4 linked regions of the Homo sapiens genome follow. The protein of the gene in region 3 interacts with the protein of the main gene of each other region in a biochemical or structural test. Each region holds a gene or a part of one and is shown on either strand. Other genes may lie near its edges. The genes, in order: CRHR1, RPS6KA1, PDZK1 and SDK2.

What was found.
Region 1: the proteins of PDZK1 (region 3) and CRHR1 form a complex in vitro, tested with the Homo sapiens proteins (2 studies listed by BioGRID and IntAct, with this or other methods).
Region 2: the proteins of PDZK1 (region 3) and RPS6KA1 interact in a test that uses a peptide from one of them, tested with the Homo sapiens proteins (2 studies listed by BioGRID and IntAct).
Region 4: the proteins of PDZK1 (region 3) and SDK2 interact in a test that uses a peptide from one of them, tested with the Homo sapiens proteins (2 studies listed by IntAct, with this or other methods).

The regions. Positions count from the first base shown.
Region 1 is NC_000017.11:45,822,298-45,829,325, forward strand, and holds part of CRHR1 (corticotropin-releasing factor receptor 1 isoform 2 precursor), read left to right. Parts: intron 1-6,917; coding exon 6,918-7,024; intron 7,025-7,028. Other genes in the region: LINC02210-CRHR1 (CRHR1-IT1-CRHR1 protein), read left to right, coding at 6,918-7,024.
Region 2 is NC_000001.11:26,553,740-26,560,767, reverse strand, and holds part of RPS6KA1 (ribosomal protein S6 kinase alpha-1), read right to left. Parts: intron 6,555-7,028; coding exon 6,517-6,554; intron 6,227-6,516; exon of another isoform or gene 6,175-6,226; intron 6,173-6,174; coding exon 6,030-6,172; intron 5,618-6,029; coding exon 5,547-5,617; intron 5,232-5,546; coding exon 5,143-5,231; intron 4,115-5,142; coding exon 4,050-4,114; intron 3,771-4,049; coding exon 3,668-3,770; intron 1,962-3,667; coding exon 1,831-1,961; intron 43-1,830; coding exon 1-42. UniProt on the Homo sapiens protein: Serine/threonine-protein kinase that acts downstream of ERK (MAPK1/ERK2 and MAPK3/ERK1) signaling and mediates mitogenic and stress-induced activation of the transcription factors CREB1, ETV1/ER81 and NR4A1/NUR77, regulates translation through RPS6 and EIF4B phosphorylation, and mediates cellular proliferation, survival, and differentiation by modulating mTOR signaling and repressing pro-apoptotic function of BAD and DAPK1.
Region 3 is NC_000001.11:145,670,482-145,676,393, reverse strand, and holds the end of PDZK1 (Na(+)/H(+) exchange regulatory cofactor NHE-RF3), read left to right. Parts: intron 1-180; coding exon of another isoform or gene 181-236; intron 237-2,067; coding exon of another isoform or gene 2,068-2,124; intron 2,125-2,512; coding exon 2,513-2,737; intron 2,738-3,373; coding exon 3,374-3,664; intron 3,665-4,754; coding exon of another isoform or gene 4,755-4,787; exon of another isoform or gene 4,788-4,904; coding exon 4,905-4,958; 3' UTR 4,959-5,129; coding exon of another isoform or gene 5,130-5,150; 3' UTR 5,151-5,409; downstream 5,410-5,912. UniProt on the Homo sapiens protein: A scaffold protein that connects plasma membrane proteins and regulatory components, regulating their surface expression in epithelial cells apical domains.
Region 4 is NC_000017.11:73,333,870-73,340,459, forward strand, and holds the end of SDK2 (protein sidekick-2 precursor), read right to left. Parts: intron 5,072-6,590; coding exon 4,718-5,071; 3' UTR 4,586-4,717; coding exon of another isoform or gene 4,500-4,585; 3' UTR 515-4,499; downstream 1-514.

The sequences.
Region 1 (7,028 bases), on a different chromosome or scaffold from region 3:
AATGAATAATCTTTGAAGGGTGATATTTGGCAGAGGCACAAATATATCTATCCTGGAGCTGCTACTGCCCTCGGTCTCTCCCACCCTGTCTCCTTTCCCACCCGACGCTTTCTCCCTTGGTGCTGAGGAAGACGGGGGTCAAAGGGCAGAAGGGGGGACACCCCAGGCTGTCCGAGGGCCAGGGATTCTGATTGTGGAAGAGAGAGACTGACCTAAGCAGTCCCAAGAATCCCGTCGCCTAAAGATCAGAGCTGGAAGGGACCGTGGAGACTCTCCTTCCCATCTTGAGGTTCCCAGACTTGCCTGGTTATAAGAATCGTCCAGAGGCAGATCTCCTGAGGTCAGGAGTTCAAGACCAGCCTGTCCAACATGGTGAAACCCCATCTCTACTAAAAATACAAAATTAGCCGGGTGTGGCGGGATTACACCTGTAATCCCAGCTACACGGGAGGCTGAGGCAGGAGAATCGCTTGAAACCAGGAGGCGGAGGTTGCAGTGAGCCGAGATTGTGCCATTGCACTCCAGCCTGGGCAAAAAGAGCGAAATTCCATTAAAAAAAAAAGTGGGGCCAAGTGCGGTGGCTCACGCCTGTAATCCCAGCACTTTGGGAGGACGAGGCAGGCAGATCACGAGGTCAGGAGATCGAGACCATCCTGGCCAACATGGTGAAACCTCATCTCTGCTAAAAATACAAAAATTAGCCGAGCATGGTGGCGCATCCCTGTAATCGCAGCTACTCAGGAGGCTGAGGCAGGAGAATCACTTGAACCAGGGAGGCGGAGGTTGCAGTGAGCCCAGATCGCGCCACAGCACTCCAGCCTGGCGACAGAGCAAGACTCTGTCTCAAAAAAAAAAAAAAAAATGGAATCTCCCAGAGCACTTGTCCAAATACAGGTCCCAGGGCCACACCCAACACCTAAGAAATCACACTGTCCAAGGAGGACCTGGGAATCTGTGTCTTTCATGAGTGCCCCAGGGGAGCCTTCTGATGGGGCAAAAGTGAGAAACTCTAATCTAGTGCGACCCGTTCACACTACAGATGGGGAGACTGGGGCCCAGAAAAGGGGAATGATTCACACAAGGTCACGTGGCTCTGGGACATTCCCTTTTTTTTTTTTTTTTTTTTTTTGAGACAGAGTCTTCCTCTGTCGCCAGGCTGGAGTGCTGTGGCGCGATGTCGGCTCATTGCAACCTCCACCTCCCTGGTTCAAGTGATTCTCCTGCCTCAGCCTCCTGAGTAGCTGCGATTACAGGAATGCACCACCATGCTGGGCTAATTTTTGTATTTTTGGCAGTTAAGTCAGAGCCCGGAACCCAGGGCTTTGGAGCCCAGGCTCCGGAGCACAGGCTCTGCAGCCCAGGCTCTGCTTTGCCCACTGCCAGGTATCTGGCGTGAAACAAAGTTAACGGAGAAAGAATCACTTTCCTTCACCTGTAGCTCCCACCCCGGCCTGGCAAGCTTTGGTTAGCCCCACCCCTGGCTTCCTGGCCTCAAGTCACTGAGCTAATGCGGGGCTCTGCTGTCTCCTTCCGGAAGCTGCAGCTAGGTCAATGCCTAGCTTAAAAGACTCACGAGTTCTTCCACGGTGCTGCTCTGGCAGGGCGAGGGGCTGCCTGGCATCTCAGATCCCACAGGCCAGACCTTTGGGTGGCACTCAAGGCTGGGGTGGGTTGGTCAGGCTCCCTGATGATCTGATCTGAGCAGGGAAAGCCCTCAGCTTGCTAAGCCCCCACACAGAGAGCCCACCTGGGAAGTCCTGGGATTGGGAGGAGGGCTCCTCCTGGACTGGGGGAAGGAGGTGGGGTTCCAGGTTAGGAGACTTAGTTGGGCCAGAGGAGATGGCCTTGGCCTTGGCTGGTGGGGTGGGAGTGGGCAAGACCGTTCAGGGATGTGAGGAGCCCGTAGCCTGGCACACAGTAGAGGAGGTGGGAGGAAAGGAAACAGGGCTGGTGCTCAGAGGAGCGGGTCAGTGCTGTCAGTGACTCAGGACCACACGCCATTGCAGAGAGGGATGGTGTCCAGGAGGCACAGCTAAGCCATGAGGTCAGGCTGCAGGCCGCACTGTCTGTCCCAGCTTCACGCCCTGCACTCAACCCTCCTGAGGGTCAGCGCGGGGTCTTCGTGGTTCACCTGTCTCTCCTGCTCTATTGCAAGCCCCTTCTTTTCAGTTGGCTGATGGGGACACTCGGCAGCCCCCATTTTCCCCAGCACCCTTCAAAGGCCTAAGGGCAGTAGGTTAGCCACCCTCAGCCTGCCCTGCAACACCCAACCCTGCCAGGACAGGGGTCTCTACCTCTGTCCACCAGCAGGGTTAGGACAAGGAAGAGGATCGGGAGCCCGGTCTCATCAGCCCCCTCTTTGCATTGCAGTGGGAATAGCACGGACCTTAGGGTTTGGGTTTCAACGGGAACCTGCTGCATGACCTTGAGGAGGCAACTTAACCTCACCAAGTTCCCAAAAATGGTGGCCAGGAATTCAGATCTCTGCCTTCTGGGGATGGAAGGGTGGTGTTGGCCTGTCTTGGCCTATGGGAGACGTTCCATTCACCTGCCGCCCCCTGTCTCTCATCTCCCCTGTGAGGTCAGGGGAGGTTGTAGTGTACACCTGGGGGAGTGACCCGCCCCACCCCCCAGCCCATCCGTGCCTGGCTCTGCCATCTCTTTCCTCTGCAGCCCCTGCTGGCCTGGTGCCTAGCACTCTGGGTAATCGATTAGTTTAATTAGTGAAAATGCCATTCCCTTCTGCCAGCCCCCAGCCTCGCCAGACCCCTCCCAGAACTGCAGAGGAAAGTATCCAATTAATTGAGTGGTAGGTTTCTCAGCTCTGGGCCTGGGCTAAGCCCTAATTAAGCTCCAGCGCCCTGGGGTATCGCAGATAATGGATTCGCAGAAGTCTGCCTGTGAAATGGGACTTGCAAGGGCACCTCAAGGCCAGGCACCCCAGGAGATCTGCCCGCAGCCAGCACCACCAGGGGACAGGCCCCCAACTGTTGCATGCATGGCTGGCCGGGGGATGGCACTGAGCCCCCAGCACCACCCCTACACCTGCTGCCTGTATCAGCACCCTCTCCTCCCCCCACCACCTCCCGCTACTACTGTTCACTCCCTTCCCCACCGTCCAGCCTTCCCCCACCCACCCAACACTTGCACACACTCTATCCCCTTTCCCCACGTTCTGCTGCGCACAGGAGCCTGGGCCTCAGGCACAGCCTGGGAGAGCACACCGTGGTGGGACATGAAACGGATTCTGGGGGTCTGGTTTGTGGACCAAGGTTCACTGCTCACCGTGTGGGGAGAGGTGAGTGGTGGTTGGACCAGGGCTTCTGAACTGCAGAGGTGCTTTTTCCTAAAACCAAGCTCCGATTCCATGGGCCTGGCGTAGGGCATACATTCCACTTTCCTCAAGATCTCTGCGTGCTCCTCTGCGTGCTGTTGCTGGGCCAGGGGCCACCCTTTGAGGATCGAGGGGCTGGAGTGAGTGCCCACTGCAGGGTAAGAGGAGTAGCTCTGGAAGCCTCGGTGGAGAGGACGTGCCAGAATGGAGTGGGCACCAGTGGGGAGCTTGGAAGGGAGGTCTCATTGCCACCAACCCAGAGAGGCATCAGGACGGATCTGGCACTGCAGCGCCTGGGACGAGGTGGTGTCCTGCAGAGAGTCCAGTCAGAGTCAGCCGGGCACAAATTGCTTATTCAATTCAGATCACTGAGGGTACAGCGGAGTGGCCTCTGCCAAGTACCACGCTGTGCCACCCTCCTTAGGGCGGGGTGCCTGCTGGTCTTAGGTCTCCAGACTGGATGGAGATGGAGTGCTGGTCAGGGCCCGAGGGGTAGCTGTGCCCATTTGTCCTTCGGACATCCCAGCTGCTTTGCTGTTATCGTGGCCATCGGTCGGGGTGTCACTGGCTGTCCCTGGGGGTGCTGCTGACTCTCCTCTCCAGGTATCACTGGCCACCTCTCAGGGTGTTCCTGGGTGCCTCTTAAGGCCTTGCTGTCTCTCTAAATAATGCTGGCCAGAACTCTGGTTGTTATTGGAAATGTCACAGTGTCACTGGCTTCTGTCTGGGTGTCGCAGGATGTATTTGTCTCAGGGTATCAGCAGCCATCCCTCAGGCTGTCTCTCCAGCTGTCTTCTCAGGTTGCATGATGCTGATGTGGCCGATGAGAGACAGGGCTTGAACCCGGCCCAGGCCCGACTGCTCAGGGAGGCACACTGAGACTTTGTCCCCCGGGAATGGTTTGGCCTGATTCTCCCTCAGGCTCTTGGAGGAAAGCCCTCTTGGGCGCTATTGTCCCAGCAGGAGGTCCCCCGAGGCTCCTGGGCCCAAAGTGGCGTGAGACCACCCCAGAGAGTGCCTCTGCTTTCAATTCCTGCTTGTCCCCCAAGAAATGTCGCAGGGGGCCGGACACGGTGGCTCACGCCTGTAATCCCAGCACTTTGGGAGGCCGAGACAGGTGGATTGCCTGAGCTCAGGAGTTCGAGACCAGCCTGGGCAACATGGCAAAACCCCATCTCTACCAAAAAATACAAAATATTAGCTGGGCATGGTGGTGCATGCCTGTGATCCCAGCTACTCGGGAGGCTGAGGCAGGAGAATCACTTGAACCCAGGAAGCAGAGGCTGCAGTGAGCTGAGATCCTGCCACTGCACCACTCCAGACTGGGCGACAGAGTGAGACTCCATCCCTCCCCCACCCAAAAAAAGAAATGTCCCTGGGAAACAGGGAAAAGAGGGAGCTTAAAGCCAGGCAGACCCAGGTTCCAGATACCGGCTGCGTGGCGTGGCCAATTATTCAGTCTCTTCTACGGAAAGAACTGGGATGAGAGGAGCAGTCTCCAAGGGCAGCTGTGGGAAAGAAAAGCAGTAGTGTCTGCAGAGCTCCTGGCACAGTGCTCAGCATACAGCAGGTGCTTAACAGATAACTCCTCCCCACTCCAACCCCAAGGGCCCGGTACGGCCTGACTCGGGAGTGAGGCAGGGGCCCTGGAAGGCAGCACTGAAGGGTCTCCCTGCACACTGCGCTCCTCCCGCCCAGCCTGGGCCTGTGAACAAGGCCGGGGTGTTGTGCCATGCTCGGCTCCACACATGTTGTCATTACCCAGGGGCTTCTCAGCATGGATTTGTGGAAAATTTAATAAAAGGATATTAAATACCAGCTCCAGACAGCCTGTGATGTGTGCATATCTTCCAGAGCCTCCGGATTGGGGCATCTGCCGCCAGGCGCTCAGAGACCCTCCCCACTTGCACGGGTGATAGGTACCCTCTCCTCACTCCCCTCTCTGTCTCTGTCTCTCCTGCCTTCATTTACACCTCCCTGGATCCCAGTCCTTTGGAGGCTGGAGTTGCTAATGTAATTACCTGCCATGTTCCAGAAAGCCTCTGCCTGGAAACCAGCTCCAAGAACAGAGCTTCTGTAGCAGCCTCTGGAGAGGTTCCCCAATGAGGGTGCTCCTTCAGAAGGGCCTTGGTGGCCGGGCGGAACTGGGCATAGGGTCTTGGCTTCTCCTGGGATGCCTGGTGGATAGGGCTGGACTTGATCTCTGGTTTCAAGTGGGTTCTGTAATTCCAACAGGAAGGCCTATGGAGTAGCTCCTTGGTGGCCAGTAGCTCCTTGGTGGCTCTGAGAAGATGATGAGGGCCGTTGTGAGCTCAGTGCTTCTCAGCACTTGCATGTCACCCACCTTTGTGCCTCATGATCATTCAGCCCCACCCTAGAGCCTAGAAACGGGGAGGAAGGGAGGTGCTGCCAGGGACCCCTCCCTTCTCAAAGTCACCTGCTTTTCAACACCCGTCTTTCCTTCCTTCACTCACACACTGCTTTGGAGTTTGACTGCGTGTCAAGCTCTTGGTTTCTAGGCCCTGCTTCTTGGGACCTATAAAAGTGTGGATGGGGGCTGTGCTCTTGGGCAGGAGTCTGCAGAGAGCTGGGCATGGGGACTGACCAGTCCCCTATTATGGGCTGGGGACCTGTTTGCAGCCTTCGTATCTTGCCAATCTACATGTGCAGGCAAGAGGTGGTTTTGGAGTTGCGCGACCTCCAGCGCGTCAGCATAACCTCTGTGCTGTTTTCCTACAAAATAAAGCCCAGATGCCTTTCCGGCTCCCCCCACGGGGTTGCCCTGATGGTTTAAGACGATAACAGATATGAAAATCCTCTGTAAACAGGAAGGCTTCACCACTCTTGGAACTCAAGATTGCTGTAAAGAGGAGGGCAGTGACCTCCATCAGTATATTAAATTCATTAAGAAATAAACCCGGGGAATGTGTTACAGTCCTGGGAGAGGATCCTGCTCACTCTGCACAGATCCCCTTGGGCCAGGGATGGGGAAGGCCCCGGAAAGTGAGTTATGGAGCCTAAGGAGACTTTTCTGTGGTTTCTGCTGATTCTGTGGATGCCAGAGCCCAGCAGCTGCCCGGCCCCTCCTTGCTCACAGGAGCAGGCGGCATTGCAGCAGGAGGGATTTAGGGGTGGCTGAGAAGGTGGTGACTCAGTTCAGAAATGGGTGGAGAAGAGAAATCCCGGGAGTTTGGTGTCTCTGCAGCTGAGAGGTCCACCTGGTGTTCTGACTGGGTGGCAGCATGGGTAGATGCGAGTGTGAGGGCGCACCTGTGAGCCGGCCACATGTGCTTGTGCATGCAGGGGCGGGGGGTCCATGTGGAGTGGGGAATCCCACGTGATGTGGAGATTCAGTTCGACACAACACGGAGCAGTGAACACAGCATGGGATTCAGGGACAAGCAGAGCCTCAAACTGGACGGCGTTGCTCTGCAGCGAGGCCTGACCCTCAGCAGATGCTCAGGAAGGGGGAGTGGCCCTTGAGATCATGACCCGCTCCATCCCAGCCACCCCTAGGCGATGTCCTCACAGAGCAGCTCCCATCCAGCAGAAGGCTCACCTCTGCCCCTCTCTCCTGCTCCAGAAAAAAAGCAAGGTGCACTACCATGTCGCAGTCATCATCAACTACCTGGGCCACTGTATCTCCCTGGTGGCCCTCCTGGTGGCCTTTGTCCTCTTTCTGCGGCTCAGGTGA
Region 2 (7,028 bases), about 120 Mb from region 3:
CACGTAGCCGTCACTAAAAACCAGGTTCTTCCCATGGAGTTGCTGTAGGAGACCAAAAATTGTGGCTGACCCCTGGCTCTAGAGTGCTAGGGGTCATCCCCCAGGACCTAAGGTCTTGGCTCAGTAGAGACAGCACCAGGGAAGGGCCAGGAGACTTGGGGTAGAGTGTTGGCCATGTGACCGCAGGTGACAGCCTGCCCCTCTCTGGGCCTCAGTTTTCTACTCTATATAATGGGCATACTCACTGGCTCCCAGCCTGCCTGGACTGCAGCCTGTGGTCAGAGGGCAGTGTAGGGAGTGGGAAACAGGGTCACAACACACATGGAGAGGACTTTAGTTCTGAAAAGTCTGGGCAGGCCTGGGAGGGACGCAGGAGCCCTGAGCTGAGTTCCAGCTGTGCCACTAAGTACGGCTTTGAGTGGCCTGCCTCCCTTTCTGGGGTGTCACAGCTCAACTCATGGGGTGTCTCAAGGTTCTGGGACATTAGCCGTAGCAATGCTGAATGGTGCTTAGTGTGTGCTGTGTGCCAGGCACTATTCTAAGCACTTTCATCAGGTGACTGCATGCCCCACGGCCAGCCCTGGCTTGCGCATGCGGTCCTTGCATCCAGTCTGATTTAATATTTGTCCTGGACTAAGATGTCCCAGTTTGGAAAATAAATTACATAGTCACCTTAACTTTATTTTTTATTTTATTTATTTATTTTTTGAGACAGAGTCTTACGCTGTTGCCCAGGCTGGAGTGCAGTGGTACGTTCTCAGCTCACTGCAACCTCTGCCTCCCAAGTAGCTGGGACTATAGGCACGCGCCAACACGCCCAGCTGATTTTTGTATTTTTAGAGACGGGGTTTCGCCATGTTGGCCAGATGGGTCTGTTTAAATTCCTGGCCTCAAGCAATCCACCCTTCTTGGCCTCCCAAAGTGCTGGGATTACAGGCATGAGCCACCGTGCCCAGCCCACATGAACTTTACATGTATTAACTCTAATAATCCTCATAACAGCTCTATGGAGGAAGCTTCTATCATTTCCCCCATTTACAGATGAGGAAACTGAGGCACGAGGAAGGGAGTATCTCATCCAAAGTCCATTATCTGGTCAGGTGCTCATGTCTGTAATCTCAGCACCTTGGGAGGCTGAGGTGGGCGGATCACTTGAGGTCAGGAGTTTGACACCAGCCTAGCCAACATGGTAAAACCCCGTCTCTACTAAAAATACAAAAAAAAAAAAAAAAAATTAGCTGGGTGTGGTGGTGTATATCTGTAGTCCCAGCTATTCGGGAGACTGAGGCAGGAGAATTTTTTGAACCTGGGAGGTGGAGGCTGTAGTGAGCTGAGATTGTGCCACTGCACTCCAGCCTGGGCAACAGAGCAAGACTACGTCTCAAAAACAAACAAACAAAAAACCCCAAAGTCCATTATCTTGTGAATCTGGAACCCATGCAATGAGCTCCACAGTCTACATTCTTGCCTCTCAACCTGAAACTTTCATTAGCAGTAGAAGTGTACAAATGGGGAACAAGTGTGATGAGATCCAAGTCCTTCGCTACACTTATGCCGGAGACACGACAGTCACTCGGCACCACCACCCTGGGCACCTCCTGACATGTACCCAGACCCTGGCTCTGTGCTGGGAAATGTACACCCATATCATCATCCAATTATCAGGGCCACTGTGTGAGGTGGGCCTTACTGTCCCTGTTTTATGTTGGAGGCCCTACTGGTCCCACAGTGGCATGAGGGTATGAACCTGGTTCTGTCCAACTCAGAGCCTGTGTACTCAGCCATTCTTTAGAAAAGGATAATGGAGCAGCAGCCCCCTGCCCCCCTCACCTGTACCACCGAGTGCAGGGGTGCCTGCGGGGCACGAGGCTTGCCGTCGTCTTCCATCAGGCCGGTGGCCACGAAGCTGAAGCCCCGGAACAGCTGATGGGCCCCAGCGCTGGGGGGGATGCCTGGGGAATCTGTACGGATGGAAGGAGAATGTGAGGGTACCTGAGGAGGTCCCCTCGACCCTGAGGCAGCCCAGCAAAGGGGGAGCACAGGGCCTCCAGACCTGCCTCAGGGGCTGGCCGTGGCGGGAGCCTGCAGAGGGCCTGTCCATCACAGGCCTTGGCCCAACTGCTCATATGTGTTTATTAGACCAGCCCAGTCCTGTCGCATGAGGAACAAAAAAGACTCTCACATCCACCTCCATCCCAGGCCAAGACAGTTCATCCCTTCCTGGATGCTTCCTCCCCAGCTTCCCCATCTTACGTCAGCCCCTTCAGGTCCATCTCTGCACAGCAGCCAGAGGGAAGGTTCCAACCACAAATCTGCCACCCTGCCCACACCTTTCAAAGGTTCCCGTCTGCCTTCAGGAGTAAGTCCAGCTCCTGAGTCTGGCAATTGAGGGCCCTGTGATCCTCACCTCCTCTCTCTCCATACCACAGCTGAGCCATGTTGGACTTCTCAGATCCTTAGAGGGGTCTCTGAGCCCTTGCACACACTGTTCCCTTTAACTAGATAATCCACTCCTTGCCTATCCTTCAAGACTCAACTCGCACGCTCCCTCCTCTGAGAAGCCTTGCCTGATGCTGCTCCTCCGGCCCCTGACTCCTACGAAGCTGCACTTGTCACGTTGCCCAGCGGACTGCTTGGAGAAGTGCTGTCTCTGTCATCAGAGGCGTGCAAGTGCAGTGAGAAAAGCACCCCCTTGTGGATCACCTGAGGTCAGGAGTTCGAGACCAGCCTGGCCAACATGGTGAAACCCCGTCTCTACTAAAAATACAAAAATTAGCCAGGCGTGCTGACACATGCCTGTAATCCCAGCTACTCGGGAGGCTGAGGCAGGAGAATCTCTTGAACCCAGGAGGTGGAGGTTGCAGTAAGCTGAGATCACGCCATTGCATTCCAGCCTGGGCAACAGAGCGAGACTCCATCTTGAAAAGAGGAGAGGAGAGGGAAGGGAAGGAGAGGGAAGGGGAGGGGAGGGGAGGGGAGGGGAGGGGAGGAGAGGGGAGGGGAGGAGAGGAGAGAAGAAAAGCACACCCTCTCCTAAAACATGCCCTTATAGGAGGTTTCCCAGAACATTCCACCCCACACCCACTGTCAATATCTGGCCAAAAAGTTAGGATTCACCAGGTTCCTTCCCAGAAGCTCCCTCACTGGCTTCTTGTAGCAACCCCAGGGAATGAGTGGGTTTGTGGCTGTGCCCTTGTTCCAGATAAGTACACGGAGGCCGGGCAGTCAGGGCAGCCAAAGCTGATTCCCATGCCTGTCCCTGACCTATGGGCACTGTCACCTCTGCTCAGCCACCACACAGTGTGGCTGGGTCAGATTCTTTCTCCCTGACGTGATGGTAAGCCTGATGTGTTTGGTCTTCCCAGTGGGCTGGAAGGTGCCCCGGGCAGGGGTCCTGGCTTTTCTACTGTGGCCTTCACCACCCACACATCCCCACTCCCACTCTCTCACCAGACACAAAGAGACCCACAGAGCCCCATAGTGAGAGAGTCGGGCGGAGTGAGACAGGGACAAAGTCAGTCCCACGGAGCCAGAAACTCACCCGCCTGCCCACCCGCATACCTCGGCCTGTCAGTGTCCCTGACTATCTCTGCCCCCCAAGCTGCCACCGACTCCCGGCTTCCCTCCTGTACCAGCCCAAGACAGACAAAACAGATAAGGGACGCACCCTTGGGTGTGCGGGACGTGAACTCGGTGTCAAAGTAGAAGGTGTCATCAGGCTGAGCCACTGCTGGCTTGAAGGGTGGCTTGATCTCACGACGGTATAGCTTCTGCACAGTGGGGTGGGCACTCTGGTCACCATGGCATCCTCAACAGCCCACCAGGAGCCCCATGCAGGAGGAGGTGCTGGGCTTGGAACATAGGCCATATTGCCCAGCTCTCGGAATTGCTTGCCCTCAGGAGGCCAGCCCTTGTCTTCAAGGGCAGGCTGTGACCCTCTGCTCCTGCGTCTGGGGCCCTCGCTGGCAGAGGCTCCCCTCCCACCACCCTTCCTGTGGCCAAGATGGCTGAGCCCTGGCCAGAGCCCTGGTGTGGGTGGACACACTCACATTCCAGTCAATGGTGGAGTAGAAGACATGCCGCTTGATTTCCTCTGCCCCATCAGGGCCGGAGCCTGAAAGAGCCCAAATGAAGGGTCTGTCCCTGGCTGGCACAAGTCCCAGATATTACCCTGCCCACCAAGCAGCCTCACAGGGCTCTGGGACCAGCTGCTGGAGCAGAGGGGAAAATGGGCTCACTCAGCCTCAAATCTACCCAGCCATCACCCTAAGGCCTGTCACCTACTCAGCATTTTCCACTTTCTGGAGCTTCTGATGAAGAAATTCCAATGTACCAGTGGGAGGAGGAAGGCCCAGAGACTTTAGGCAACTTCTCCAAGGCCACACAGTTAGAACAGAAGCTGAGCTTGTTCTGAGACCTACAGAGAGCCCCACCTCATTCCAAGGCAAGCCTCATCTCTGTTCCTCTTATCCCATTGACCTTTTCAACCATAGGACAGGCTGTTACTCCATTCGACCCCAGGGGCCTTGACTGGACCTTACACAGCTGGTCATGGACCAGATGAACCCAGGAGCCAGGGAAGCCAGCACACACTGGACACCTACTACATGCCGGCATGTTCACACAACCTCATTTCATCAACAGAGCCCTGAAGCAAGCTTGGGATCATCATCTCCCATTGAGACGAGGAACCTGCGGTGCAGAGAGGTGAAGTCACCTGCCTGGGGTCACTTAGTTCATAAGTGGCCTCATTCGTTTAACAAATATTTATAGAGGGACTGTTTTGTGCCAGGCAGTGGGGACCTGACACAGAGCCGGGATTGGGACCTATGCCTTCTGACTCCTGAGCTCATGCTATTTCTCTTGTGCCAGCAGCCTTGGCGGAGAAGCTGTGTGGGGGCCTCTGTCCTTGTCCCCAGAGGGAGTAGGGATGACTCAGTTCCTGCCTTCCCCCTACACACAGGTCAACTCCCCCCTCCACAACACCACACATGGAGCCAGAAAGCAGGGTGGCCCGCGGCATTGTCTGCCCACACAAAGGACAACGGCCCCTTTCAGCCCAGATGTGGCCCTGTGGCCTAGGCTGCAGCTGTACCCGGCTCCCCATCGCCACATCCCCTCCCCTGAGCTGGGGCTGCTTACCGAGCCGGTTGGCAGGATTCCGCTTGAACAGGGCCCGCAAGAGGCTCTGGGCTTCAGTGCTCAGAAACTGGGGCATGCCTAGCTTCGCCCTGAAACAGCCCCCGGGACTCATCAAGGCTGAGCCCTGCCCCAGAGGCCCCATCTCCCCCGGCCCCTGTCCAGATCTAGTTCCCAGCTCAGTCTAGACAAGCCATCCACTAATTCACTTCCCAAAGGCTTCAGGGATCCTACCCACAGGCCCCCAGGGATGAAAGAGGGGCTCTGGAAGGTATAATGTTTAACCCAGAGGAGAGTCTCATTAGAGAGGGTAGCTGAGGCAGGGACAGGGTAATAATATTCTGACCCCCAAACTGGGGCTGGGGCTTGGAGGAGTCCATTGTTATCAGGGCAGGGCTGGGGCTTACTTCAGAATCAGTGTCATGGTCTCCTTCCGGTCCTTCCCCTGGAAGGGCAGGGAGCCCGTCAGCATCTCAAACTGCAGAGGACAAGGATCTATTCAGGCTCTGATCCCTGTCTCCGACACACCTCCCGCCTCCTCCCAGTCAGACCCCTCTGCCCCAGTCCCAGGATTCTTGCTGATACATCCAAGTCAGCCTGGAGCAAGAATTATGCCCGTCCCTCTTGCCTCTGCCAACCAGACCACCAGGAGCAGCGGTGGGGGCGCGAGGCTGGGGAGAAGGCCAGCACTGGGTTAGGCGCGTCCCAGGTGGGGTCAAGCCTGGGATCCTTCCAAGGAAGAAAACTGCAGGTGCATATAGGGTGAGGCCAGCTTGGCTGTGAGAGGAGACGGGGAGAGCCCTAGAAATGATCAACCCCCTCACTGTACAGATAGGGAGACTGAGGCCAGAGGCTTGGGCTGGATCCTTTACCCCTGTCTGGGCACTCACCATCAACACCCCATAGGACCACCAGTCCGCACTATGGGAGTGGCCCTGGCGGTTGACGACCTCAGGGGCCATGTACTCCACTGTCCCGCAGAAAGAATAGGCCTTCTTCTCGTGGTCAATGGCCTCTTTGCTCAGGCCAAAGTCTACAGCAAGGAGGGCAGGAGGACACACCTTAGGACCCCTGCCTTCCTTGCTGCCACCCTTTGCACACCCAACCCCCGTGCCCAGAGGCCAGAAGGCATCACCCCCATGACACTCAGGAGGAAGCTAAGGCCCAGAGAGGTCAGGTGACTTGCTCAACGTTACACAATGAGGGGCTGGGATTCCAGCTGAGGGTGTTCCAAGTCTGAGGCCTGAGTTTTTGACCACTTCCAAGTAACTGGCACGGCTTCTCGGGAAGAATGAGCCCCCAGCACTCAGCCGAGACCTATCATGACCTTGTCCTGTCCTCCCCTGGGTCCCGAGGGGGCAGGCGCCCTCCACTCACCAGTGAGTTTGATGTGGCCCTCCTCATCCAGAAGGATGCTGTAATAGAGAAATAGTGGTCAGGGCCCCTCAGCTGTGGCCGTGTGGGTGATGGTGTTACCACAGGGCTGTGGGAGTTGGGTTCAGCCCAGAGGAGGTGCTCCACCCAATTCTCTCTGATGACTGGGCGGGTGTTGCAGGGTGGTAGCAGTACCACGCAGGGGTGTTGCCTATCTTTTTTGCTAATCCTTGAAGCAACTGTGTGAGGCAAGTACTATTAGGGCCCCGTTTTGCTAATGGGAAAACTAAGGCTCAGGGCAGTTAAGTAGCTCTACAGTCATTGAGCTAGTAAGTCTAGCTAGTAGGTGGAGACAGGATTTGAATACAGGGCTGCCTAACACTAAAGCCAGATCTTATTCCAACTCACCACCTGCCCCTGGCTCCTTAGTTATCATTTGAGGGTAGTTAGATATTAGGGAAAATTCTATAGGGCTTTATCAAGGAAAGACCTCTAAAGGTGGCATCTCAAATGTC
Region 3 (5,912 bases):
TAGCTTTTGGCTTAAGAACCAACTGAAGCTGCCAGAAATGATGAGTCATTTTGCAGTTGGTGGAAAGTCAAGCAGAAATCAGAGGCGGCTGCTGCAGCTGTTTGTTGTAAAGGGGATTCTGACCCCTCCTGATCTTATCATAGAATGATTTAATTGTAATTTTTCTGTTTTGGTTAATAGAGAACTTTGATCGAAAAAGAAGCCTGCCCTCATCATCTCCTTCCCCGCTCTCCAAAGTAAGCCCTGTAGGTTGGGGTGGAGGGTAGATCTTTGAGATACATCAGTGAGTAAAACACAACCCTCTAGCAGTCCCTGGCACATACTAGACACCCAATTATCTGAATGAAGCATGAATAAAATCTCATTTTTTTTTTTTGAGACAGAGTCTCCCGCTGTTGTCCAAGCTGGAGTGCAATGGTATGTTCTCAGCTCACTGGAACCTCTGCCTCCCAGGTTCAAGTGAGTCTCCTGCCTCAGTCTCTCAAGTAGCTGGGACTACAGGTGTGTGCTACCACACCTGGCTAATTTTTATATTTTTAGTAGAGAATGAGGTTTCACCATTTTGGCCAGGCTGGTCTCGAACTCCTGACCTCAAGTGATCCGCCCACCTTGTACTCCCAAAGTGCTGGGATTTCAGGCATGAGCCACCAAGCCCGGCCAAAATCTCAAGTGTTTTAATGTTATTGCACTTTGCCTCGAGATGAGCTGCGACTGTCAGATACAGTTGATTTGCTTGTTTGGGTAGTGTTATCAGACGTATTTTTGCATGTAATGAGTCACCTGATAATTTTCCATATTTTAAAGAGAAAGGCTCCATTGTGGAACTGTTGCAAGTATATGACTGAAAGGTCTGAAGTTAGTTGAACTGGGTAACTAGGAGGTTCTGTGCTGGTGGTATTCTCACTTAGAAAGGAAGGAGATGTGGTCTTGTGGTTAGTAAGACACATGATAACCAGAGGACTAAAAATCTAATTTTAGTCAGGCTGCTAAACAGTGCGATTTGAAGTAGAGCCCACACTGTGCTCACCTTCCATTGCTTGATTTCCTACTCATCACCTAACAAATGTTCCGGACACGTGTGGGCAGCCATTTAGCTGCTGATCCAGGATCACACCATACCCAGGTCCACCCTTCTAATTGTCTCAACTAAAACAGCCAGTTAGGCTTGTAATTCTATTACAAAAAAATCAATCCTGTTTCCTGTTCTATGCCTCTTCGGTATTCAAGATCATCATTTCTTTACATGGATGGTCTGGGAGTTGATATGAATTAGGAGTATTTAAAGATGTTGGAGAGTTTGGCATAATAGAAGTGACAGCTAATGCTTACAACAATACATAGCAAAATAAATAAGCACAGATCCCAGGTCTGGAAGGGGAGGGTATTGGCAAGCAGCAAAGGGTTGGAATTAACTTTTGTTACAATATGTGACCATATAACAGCTGTCACCCTCTCACCAATTATTCCTGTGTATATGGGTTGGTCTCTTCTAGTAGCTTTGAATCTTTGGATAGTGATAAAAATAGTGTTATATTAACATTCTCCAGAGAGACAGATCTAGTAGGATATAGATACAGGTATGAGAGGAGATTAATTAGGGGAATTGGCTTGTATGATTATGGAGGCTGAGAAGCCCCACGACAGGCTGTCTTCAAGCTTGAGACCCTGGGATGCCAGTAGTGTGGCTCCGTCCAAATCTGACTGAGCCACATTACTGGCATCACCCCTGATTGGCAGTCCTACTTGTTTGCTTCTGTGCATTTGGCCTGAGAATCTGGGGGGCTGCGGCTGTAGATCTTAGAGTCCAAAGGCCGGAGAACCAGGAATTCTGATGTCCAAGCACAGGAGAGGAAGAGGGTATCCCAGCTCTAGCAGACAGACTGACACCTTTGCCTTTTCTGTAGTTCACTCAGACTCGCATGCTAATCCCCTCTGGAACCACCTTCACAGACACACACCAAAATAATGCTTTGCCGGGCTTCTAGGTATTCCTTAATCCAGTCAAGTTGGCATCTAAAATTAACTATCACAAGTGTCTTGTGTTTTACTTTTTCTAATGTGTTTAAGGAGCTCTGAAGACCATCTTACCGAAAGGAAAAGCCAGAAGAATGTACTCTGCATGAGGTACCGGCTAGTCGGTCAGATATGTCATTTCCCAACAGGGAGATTATGTATAGCTTGTTCAGTGACTTGCTCACTATCATGAACTCACTCAAAAGAAACTAGCAATTTTTTAGACTTCTTTTGGGATCCTTGTACCGCATCCTATACTGCTTTTATGTTCATGTGTGCATTTGTGTACATGTATACACATATTACTCCATAACGAAGCACAGTCTTCTTTTATACCTTTCCTGGTTGGGGTAGTAGAGGAATTTTACAGCCTACAATCAGACACATCCAGAAGAAGAGTGGAATATGTATGATACCTTAAAAATCAGCACATTTAACAAAGTATAACTTACTCATGGTTACAACTAAGTTAATGTTTTTTCCCTTTATTTTTCAAAAGGCTCATTTTTCTCCATTTCTCTACTATCAAAGTCAAGAACTGCCCAATGGCTCTGTCAAGGAGGCTCCAGCTCCTACTCCCACTTCTCTGGAAGTCTCAAGTCCACCAGATACTACAGAGGAAGTAGATCATAAGCCTAAACTCTGCAGGCTGGCTAAAGGTGAAAATGGCTATGGCTTTCACTTAAATGCGATTCGGGGTCTGCCAGGCTCATTCATCAAAGAGGTATGGTAATCTGGTTCCAGCAGCCCAACAAACACAGCCACAATTAGGATAGTCTCAGCTTTTCCCACCCATTGATGGCTTAGTAGAGAGGTTCCATTGAAGGCACACACTGAGGGGTCTCACTTGGGTTCAGATAAATGTTGTCATGGTCCCACACCCTTTAGGTTAGCTACCAGTACATCATAAGCTCACGTTTGTTTGTTTCCCAAACATCTGTTCCAAACAGTGTGAGTTGACTGAACTCTAGTTGACAGTCACTATCAACCCTGATTGGCAGTCATATTTGTTTGCTTCTGTGCATTTGGCATAATGCCCCTTACCCTGTAGGGACTGATAAGAATCCCTAAAGCTTTCAAGTTGGGAGTGAAGAAGGGGGACCTATTTATCCCCCTTCATCCCAGAAGACATATGATGCTGAACCACTATTTATAATACCACTAATCATGTGAATATGGAAGTTATAGCCTTCATAAATATAAAAGCATTAGAACACCTTTCTCAACTTCTATACCTCAAGGAGAAATAATAACATGATTAAAAATAAATTCTTGAGCTCCTCATCTATTCTCTTAAGGAGAGCTAGTCTGATGTCCCCTTCTCTGTTTGAAATTGATAACTCAGAACTTCTGTTCACAGGTACAGAAGGGCGGTCCTGCTGACTTGGCTGGGCTAGAGGATGAGGATGTCATCATTGAAGTGAATGGGGTGAATGTGCTAGATGAACCCTATGAGAAGGTGGTGGATAGAATCCAGAGCAGTGGGAAGAATGTCACACTTCTAGTCTGTGGAAAGAAGGCCTATGATTATTTCCAAGCTAAGAAAATCCCTATTGTTTCCTCCCTGGCTGATCCACTTGACACCCCTCCAGATTCTAAAGAAGGAATAGTGGTGGAGTCAAACCATGACTCGCACATGGCAAAAGAACGGGTGAGTGGGGGCCTATTTCTTTTCGTGATCTAATTTACTAGAGTATGGGTACAGTCCCTATGAGTATATTTAATGTCTATGTTTGCCACAGATTTTTTTAAAACTAGAAAATGAAAATGTAAAGATAACTAACAAATCAAGTTATTGTAGAGGACAGGAGGCAGTATAAGAACAACAAATTTCTTACTTTCATAGCATGCAGCTGACAGCAACTGTCTAGAGCTAATAAATCAAGAAGTAAAAAGTTTATCAGTATTGTAATGGGAACCCCCAAAAGAGCCTGAATCGGATGATCTAGATATGAATTCTGGTTCTGTCATTTGTCAGCTGTGGGGAAATGGATTTATTTGTTCTGTTCCTCAGTTTTCCCACCCATAAAACAGGAATAATTTGTAGGATTGTTATCAGGATCATGTTAACTAAGATTAACTATATTAAAGTGCTTTGAATAGTGGCTGGCTCATAGTGAGCATGTAAGTGGTGACGGTTAAAGACAATATTGTTTAAAACAACTGACAGGTAATCCAGTTTTATTACTAGGAAAGATTAAGCATTCTCTATATTATTCTCTATATATTTGGATTAAATTTCTTGGTAAGTCTCAGTTTTATATTTTTGCCCAATTTTTCATAGATGAACTTGAGGTCGAAAAGTAAACTGACTTATCCAAGTTCATAAAGGAAATTTATAGCAAAGCCGAGACTCTAAAAAAGTTTAATTCAATGTTGTTCTTCTTTCCATTATATTAATTCTGCTAATGGGTGGAATATTCATTTTAATAAACTCAGTTTAATGAACACACACAATGCCCACTGATTTGTATTCAGGAATGCTTAATAAATACTATTAGTTGTATTAGTTGTCATTTAAAAATTCTGTAATTTCTCTTTAGGAAGTCAATATCCTAGTCTTATAAAAAAGAAATATACACAGACATTAAGGAATTTGTTAATGTGTCAAACAGCAAGTTGAAAACAATCAAGTGTAGAATTCAGGTCACCTGACTTCTAGTCATACCCAGATCATCTGATTCAGGCTCTTCTGGGGGTTCCCATTACAATACTGATAAACTTTTTACTTGATTTATCAGCTCTACACAATTGCTGTCAACTGCATGCTGTGAAAGAAAGAAATTCTAGTGAGTGACTCTACTCCCCGACTTAAGTCATGCAACTCTAGAATAGATCATCCCTCTTTCATTACTCTACCATTTGTAAATTCTTTGTTTTCTTATACACAGGCCCACAGTACAGCCTCACATTCTTCTTCCAATTCTGAAGATACAGAGATGTGATGAAAACAAGTAATAGCTTTGGCTGTTTATTTGATAGCTGTTTCTGGGTATTTAATAGGAATCCTTTCTCAAGGAATGAGTTGTGACCTGTTTACTGTCTCTTTAGAAGAAAAACTCCACTGGAAACCATTCACCATGTGTGATTGTCTTCTGTTATCATTTGTCTTACAGGCGGCTATTGCAGACGGCTAATTTATGCTTAACTTAGGAAGAGATAAGGCAAGAGCTAGATTTTTTTCATGTGATCTTTTCCAAGCTTCAACTTAACTTAACTACATTTCTCTGTATGATGATGTCTCTTACTTCTACAGGTTCCTTGAGCACCAAAGATGATTCATAACTCTGTATAGGTGACAGCTGCTTATAAAAGCATCTTAGCAGATAAGCCTATTAAAATTGTGCTTTTGTAACAATGTTGTGGTTGCTAGAATAAATACCATTAACAAATGCCTTTTGAGTATGCTTGATAGTGCTTTTGTTTTGGATTCACTTTTTATGCTTTAACCTTCATTTGCCTCTAGAAACCCAAAACACAATAAAGTACAGAATAAGACCTTAGTAATAAAATTCAGAATTTTCTTAAATTGCATGTCTGAGTGTTCTAAAAATTTTTCAACATTTCCCTTTCACAAGTGACTTATTCCCCCAGTTAAGTTATTCACGGTTTCACCCCACAGCGTGAGGGGCAGATAGAAAAAAAAAAAAGGAAACATCACTACCGAATTGAAAGTAGGGTATAATACTAAGTTCACAGGAAATCAAGAAAAAATGACATACCTGAAATCTCTCTTTTGGTAAAATCTATTTCAGGTGCATACCACCCCTTTCCCGGAAAAGAACAGATAACCTCTTTCTTGGTTATTTTAATGGGGCAGGATCAGATGAGGAGGTGTGGGATGCTAACTGATGTTAGATCACACAAGCATAATAAATACCAAGCTATGCTTGATAAAA
Region 4 (6,590 bases), on a different chromosome or scaffold from region 3:
TCTGTAGAAATTAAAATAAAAATGGACAAGGAGCTTGCCTTAAAATATCAGAGAGGCAGCATTATGTTTTGAGAGCCAGAAGGCTTTAGTACAAATCCTGGCTCCACCACTCCCCGAGGGCAAGCCACTTAAAGTCTCCCTGTCCCAGGTTTCCTCCTTGGGACTGTCGCAAAGATTCCATGAGTTAATAAACGTAAAGTGATTAGAACTGTGCCTGGCACAGAGTGAATGCCATAGACATATTAGCTATTGCTATTATTATTATTCACTATAATTTGCACATTGCATCAAGTAGGTTCTTATTCTAAAAGTTTAAAATAAATAAAATAGTGCATTTCACTGGAAGGCACTCACTTATGCATTAAGAGAGCAGATAAGTCAGACCCTTGACTCTTCTCTGCAAAAGCACAGCATGGCTAAAAATTGCTGTCTGGGGAATGAACTGCTTGGGTATGATACTGGGACAGGTGACCCCATTCATGTAACAGGAAGGAAAAGAATGTTGCTTCAAATCTCCAAAAAAAAAAGTTTATTTATAAAATACTGACAGTTTGACAGGACACGGGACTTCTTGTGGTATATATTTCAAATCAATTTCTTTCTTACCTTTCATTTAAAAAATAAACCTGCTAACACGCTATATGACATAGAGATATATATTTTTTTCTTACAGACAGACACCTGCCATAATGAATACTCTCCCCATAATTTTTTGTTATATCTTTTAAATCAAAAAATAAAGATTTGTGTTGATTTTTGTTTCTGGAGTCTAGATGGATGGAGAAAGGTAACACGTTTAAATGCTTTTGGTTATTCTGATGGAAACAAAGAGAAGGGGGGTGGTCCCGAGGGGGCACCTGTGCTCAGGTGGTGGTCAGGATTGCCATGTGCGCATGCCCATGGGTGTCCCTGGATAGGGCCATACAGAGGCACTGGGGAGCGGGTGGCGGCTGCTCAGATGGTCTCCCCTTTACCTTCCTGCCCACCAGCCCCTCACCCAGGGTAGGCACCTTCAGATGTGCACTCTGGGAAGCTGAGGGAAGCCCCTGCCCAGCCAGAGTGGCACTGTGGTGAGGCTCTGGCACCTTTAGAAGCACTGCCCAGGGAGGCGTGGGCAGCAACAGAAGGCCTTGAGGCAGCGTGCACCAGGTGGGGGCAGCCCCCGCTGTGTCCTTGTTTCCTCTAAATCACGGCAGTGCCAGGTTTGGGGGTAGGAGTTTTGGGGGCCGGGGGGTGAGGGATGGACAGAAGGGGAGGCAGCCTGGGTTTGCAAACTCTCTGGAGCCCTAGGAGGATGGTGGTTCTGGAGCCCAGAGCATCTTTTTGGTTTGTCTTGGCAGTGTGGGTGTGGAGCTGACGTCAACTCTGGAGGCGCAGCCAGGAAGGGGAAAGCCCTGGTGTGCCCAGCATGGGCTCCTGGGTGCAACACTGGGAGATTGCTTAGGGCACAAGGAGGCAATGCCAAAGGTGCCAGGTGTGTCCTGGTGTGAACCTGCTTTGGGTGGAGTCCCACAGGCAGGGGCCCTGGCATCACTGGCACGGAAAATCACAGGCCAGAAAGGGTCCCACTCTTTCTACAAAGGGCAGGGCCCACCACCCCTTTCTAATGTGGCCAGGTTTCTGGGAGGACGGTTGGGAGCCTCGGCTGTGCCAGTAGATATGTAAACAAGGGCAAAGAGACGTGTCCTGAAAAAATCTAGAGTTCCACAGCTGCAGGCCTGGGCTTCCAGCTGTGGCTGGGGCTGTGGAGACAATATTCCAGATGAGTGGGTATTGACTAAGTGTGGGACTTTCACCATGGGCCCAGCCTGATCTCATGGGCTTGTCTAAATTTGCGTGGTGTCCTCACCCTCTCAGACAATAGATCCCAGCCACGCCCCAAGTGCAAGCAACCCAGGCCACCTGTGCCTCACAGGGGAGAGATGGCTTCAGCCATCAGAGGGAGTTCAGGAGTCTCTTTGCTAACACACATACAGATGTGTGTTCTGTGCATATTTGTGTGTGCATGTGTGTAAGCACAGGCGTGCATGGGCACCATCCCGCATGTACACGTAGGTGTCAGCATGGGTGCGAATGAGCGTGTGGGGAGTGGGGGGGTGGAATATCTTAGTGCACCAGGTGATTCATTAAAGGCAAAGGAAAATTGACCTCATGTGCAATATATACACAGACACAATGTTTTTACTCACTCCTGCTTCCTCCCAAATAATCCCTCACTGGGCTGGGCTTAAATAATTCCCTAATGCAAACTGGGAACTTCCTTAAATGGTTAAATGCTCAGCAGAGAGGGAAAGGGATGAAGTTATTTAAAAAAAAAAAAAAAAAAAAGATGAGAGGAAAGAAAAGAAAGCTGTGCGGCACGATCACAGGCCGGCAGCTGCAGATGTGCTGCCATGGAGATGCCAGATGCTGCAGAGGGTGGGGGCGGAGGTGGCAGGGGTGGAGCAGGTGTCCAGCTGACTCCACTGCAGCCCCCAGACAAGTCCAAGGAGGCCCCGAGAGCACCTTACTTCCTGGAGGGGCAGAACCTCAGCCCTTGGTTCTCCTTTGGGGAAGATTGTGCTTCCCTTCCCAGGCCTCCTTATTGGAGAAACCGCTTTTTGGACACTGGAGCTGGGCTGGCCTGTCTGCTGAGCCATCTTCCAGCATCTCCCCGTTCACATTTCCCAGGGGTCAAGTGCTTCAGGAAAAACTCATGGCTGGGTGTGCCCGTTCTTTGGGCCCCAGACCCTGACTTCCCTTCCCGGTCACCATTAGCACAGTGACTGACTTGGGGCTGTAGGAGAGTGGTCCAGGCTCTCTCTTACCTTGGCATGTTTCCCAAATCTCCTACTTGGGCTTCCTTGAACTCTGCTCACCCACCCCAACAGAGCATCATCTCTTGGGCAGGGCCAGCAGCGCCTGTACACAGTGCACAGAGGGAGCCCTGCTCCACGAAGGGGCTCACGCTGAATCAGACAGGCCCCTGTGGGCCATCTGCCACCCATCTCAGCGGTGGGGCAGGTGTTGGGCTGGCCTTACAGGGCTGGCTGAGGGCACAGAGGGCCTTGGACAATGTATGGAGTTAGATAGAAAGGCTTCTCCCTAAACCCTGGCATCCGTAAGTACCAAGTGGACGGGAAGATCCTGGCCACTGGATGTGGCTTTTTGCAGAACACTCCTTGGAGCAGATTGTGTATGTGTATGTGTGTGTGTGTGTGTGTGTGTGTGTGTAAAAGCATTCCCTCCCATCAGCTATTCTTGTCACTTGGTCCCATCTGACCTGCCCCTGCTGGGCGTGCAATTCAAATGCTGGGTCCACTTTGGACTGAGCTTCCTGACCTGCCCCTTCCCCTCCCCGCCCTGGCCAGGCGGAGCCCAGCCTGGAAGCTGTTACTGGGGGTTAGGGTGTCTTTGCCTTTTTGCCTGTAAACTGGGTGCTAGGCTGACTGAGCAAACTCTGGGTATTCCAGCCTCTGGACCAGGGACTTGGGCCACCCCTCTGGGCTCCTGTGCCTCTGTGCTTAGGAGGCTGCCGGGTGGCAGTGAGAGGGACACAGATCTGAAAGTGAGTGTGCTGTCTGGCTAGGAGGGCCCAGATGAGTTTGTTCTGGAGAGGATCCCTAGACCCTGTTCCTTGTAAGTGCATGGGAGATGTGTGTGTGTGTGTGTGTGTGGTGAGGATCTATCCAGTGGAGAGTGACGTGTCTGCCCAGAGGGAGATCCCTCAGCTGTGCCCCACTCCCCAGCCTTGGGAAGCTGACTACCCCTTTAAAGAGAGGACGGATGGAACCTGGATTGGAAGAAAGAGAACAGTCAAAGTGTCATTCTTATCTTGCCCACAATGCGTTAAACCTAATCATCCCACAGTGCCAAGGCCAGTCGCCTTATTTACACCTCTGCTCCCCAGACTTCACCTTTCCTTGTCCATGCTCAGGAAAGTCAATTCCAGCACAGGGAGGCAGGGGTCAGTTGTGGGGGGTTTCTCCCCTACCCTTGGGCTCTCTTCCTTGGATTCAATATTTTAAAAAATATGCAGGAACAAGGAAGGCGCTAAGCAAATTCTCACCCTTTAGTTTTTTGTTTTTTGTTTTTCTTCCTTTTTCTAAATAAACCAAATGCTTGGTGGAGAAGTTGAGCAGGGGAGATGGGCAGTAGAGGTTGCCAAGACAGGGCAGGGGGTCTGGATGAGGCTGTCCGATGCCTGCCAGCCACAGTGATGGTGCATGGAGGGAAGGAGGAGCAGAGAGAGAAGATAGGCGTGGCCTCCGGGATGCCCATTCTTTTTGCAGAGAGCAGCGGCAGTGGGTCCAGGGGTCCTGGAGGGGCTGGAAGGGGGCAGCTGGCTGGACATCCAGAAGCTTTTTCTTCCCTCGGCCACGCCTGCCTGGCGGCCTCCAGTCCTTAGCCTCCGCTCCCTCTCTCTCTCCAGATGCCCGCCCCACTCCGTGTCCATAGCAGTGACACAGCCACTTCCCCAGCTCCGTGTAATTCCCAAGGGAGCAGTGAACCCCACCATCTCAAAGCTGAAGAGCTGCTGGCCACACACATCCTCTCACGGTTTTCTCCCTCCTTCTGAACGCCGGCTTTGCTGGCCCTGGAATCTCTGGAAAAATAAACTCAGGAGGTGAAAAGTTGACTTGGTTTCTTGGTGTTTTTGTTTTCTGGCAGGCAGTGAGAGGAGGGGTGAAGGAGGAGTTTGGTGCCATTTCTCTTTCTGCTTTTTCCTCTTCTGATGTCAAACAAATGATGAAAATCCTGCTATGGGAGCCCGGGAGCCTGGGGCCAGGCTGCTGGGGGGACGGTAGAGGGTGCTCTGCTGACTTGGGGGGTTAGGGGGGTTCTGGGGCGTTGGAGTCCGACTGGCCTTGGGCCGAAAGAGGCTGCCCTGCTGGGTGCTGGTGCTGTTGGTGACGGTGGTGTGGTCTGGCTCACCCGAGTCGCTCTCCGTGTAGCTGTAGGCCTGTGCCCTCGAGATGCCCTTCTGCTGTCGCCGCCACGAGTTGTAGTATGTGGGGTCACTGATGTAGTGGTTGACAAAGGAGTGGGCCTTCTGGTGGTTTGAGTCGACCTCGTACTCGCTGTCACTTCCCTGGGAGGACAGAGAATCAGGGTGTGTCAGTGGCCCCGTAGGGACAGGCCATTGTGGTTGGGGCCGGAAGGCACAGGGCATTCTGGTTCAAAACTCTGCTCTGCCTCTTTCAAGACTTGGACTGTGGGCCTCCCAGCCCCCTCACTGCCAAGGGGGTCTGGTGCCCGTTTGTGCCCGCCTGCTGCTTCCTTCACAGCAGATCCGGAACCGGAAGGATCTACTATGGGGTTGGCCCAGAGCTGGGAGATACCTGATAGAATCAGAAGACCTGAGTTTTTTTTTGTTTTTGTTTTTGTTTTTTTTTTTTGAGACAGAATCTCGCTGTTGCCAGGCTGGAGTACATTGGCATGATCTTGGCTCACTCCAACCTCTGACTCCCTGGTTCAAGCAATTCTCCTGCCTCAGCCTCCTGAGTAGCTGGGATGACAGACATGTGCCACCACGCCTGGCTAATTTTTTTGGTATGTTTAGGGGTTTCACCATGTTAGCTAGGCTGGTCTTGAACTCCTGACCTCAAGTGATCCACCCGCTTCACCCTCCCAAAGTACTGGGATTACAGGTGTCAGCCACTATCCCTGGCAAATTTTATTTTCTTTCCTTTTTATTCTTTTTTTTGGGGGGCGGGGAGTGGAAGGGGCACAGGGAATCACTGTGTTGCCCAGGCTGGAGCACAGTGGTGTGATCCTCTCTGTAGCCTCAACCTCCTAAGCTCAAGCTATCCTCCCATGTCAGCCTTCTGAGTAGCCAGGACTATGGGTGCATGCCACCACGCCCCACTAACTTAAAAAAATTTTTCTCTTGTGATGAGCTCTCCTTATGTTGCCCAGGCTGGTCTAGAACTCCTGGACTTAAGTGATCCTCCTGCCTTGGTCTCCTAAAGTGCTGGGATTACAGGCGTGAGCTACTTTACCTTACCTTTGTTTTCTTTTCTTTCTTTCTTTTTTTTTTGATACGCAGTTTCACTCTTGTTGCCCAGGCTGGATGCAATGGTGCAATCTGGGCTCACTGCAACCTCCACCTACCCGGTTCAAGTGATTCTCCTGCCTCAGCTTCTGGAGTAGTTGAAATTACAGGCACCTGCCACCATGCCTGGCTAATTTTTTGTATTTTTAGTAGAGATGGGGTTTCACCATGTTGGCCAGGTTGGTCTTGAACTCCTGACCTCAGGTGATCCACCCGCCTTGGCCTCTCAAAGTGCTGGGATTCAGGCGTGGGCCACCGTGCCCAGTCTACCTTTGTTTTCAATTGAAGTGAGGTTCACATAACCGAAAGTGAACCATTCTAAAGTCTATGACTCAGTGCATTAGGACCGTCGCAGTGTTGTGCAACCACCACTTCTATCCAGCCCTGAATCATTTCCATCACCCCAAAGTAAAACCTTGTACCCAGGAAGCAGTCACTCCCTATCTCTGCCCCTACCGGTCACTCCCTATATCCATGCCCCTGGCAACCACTAATCTGTTTTCTGTCTCCAGGGATTAACTTATTTGGGACTTTCCTATAAATGGGATCATATAAT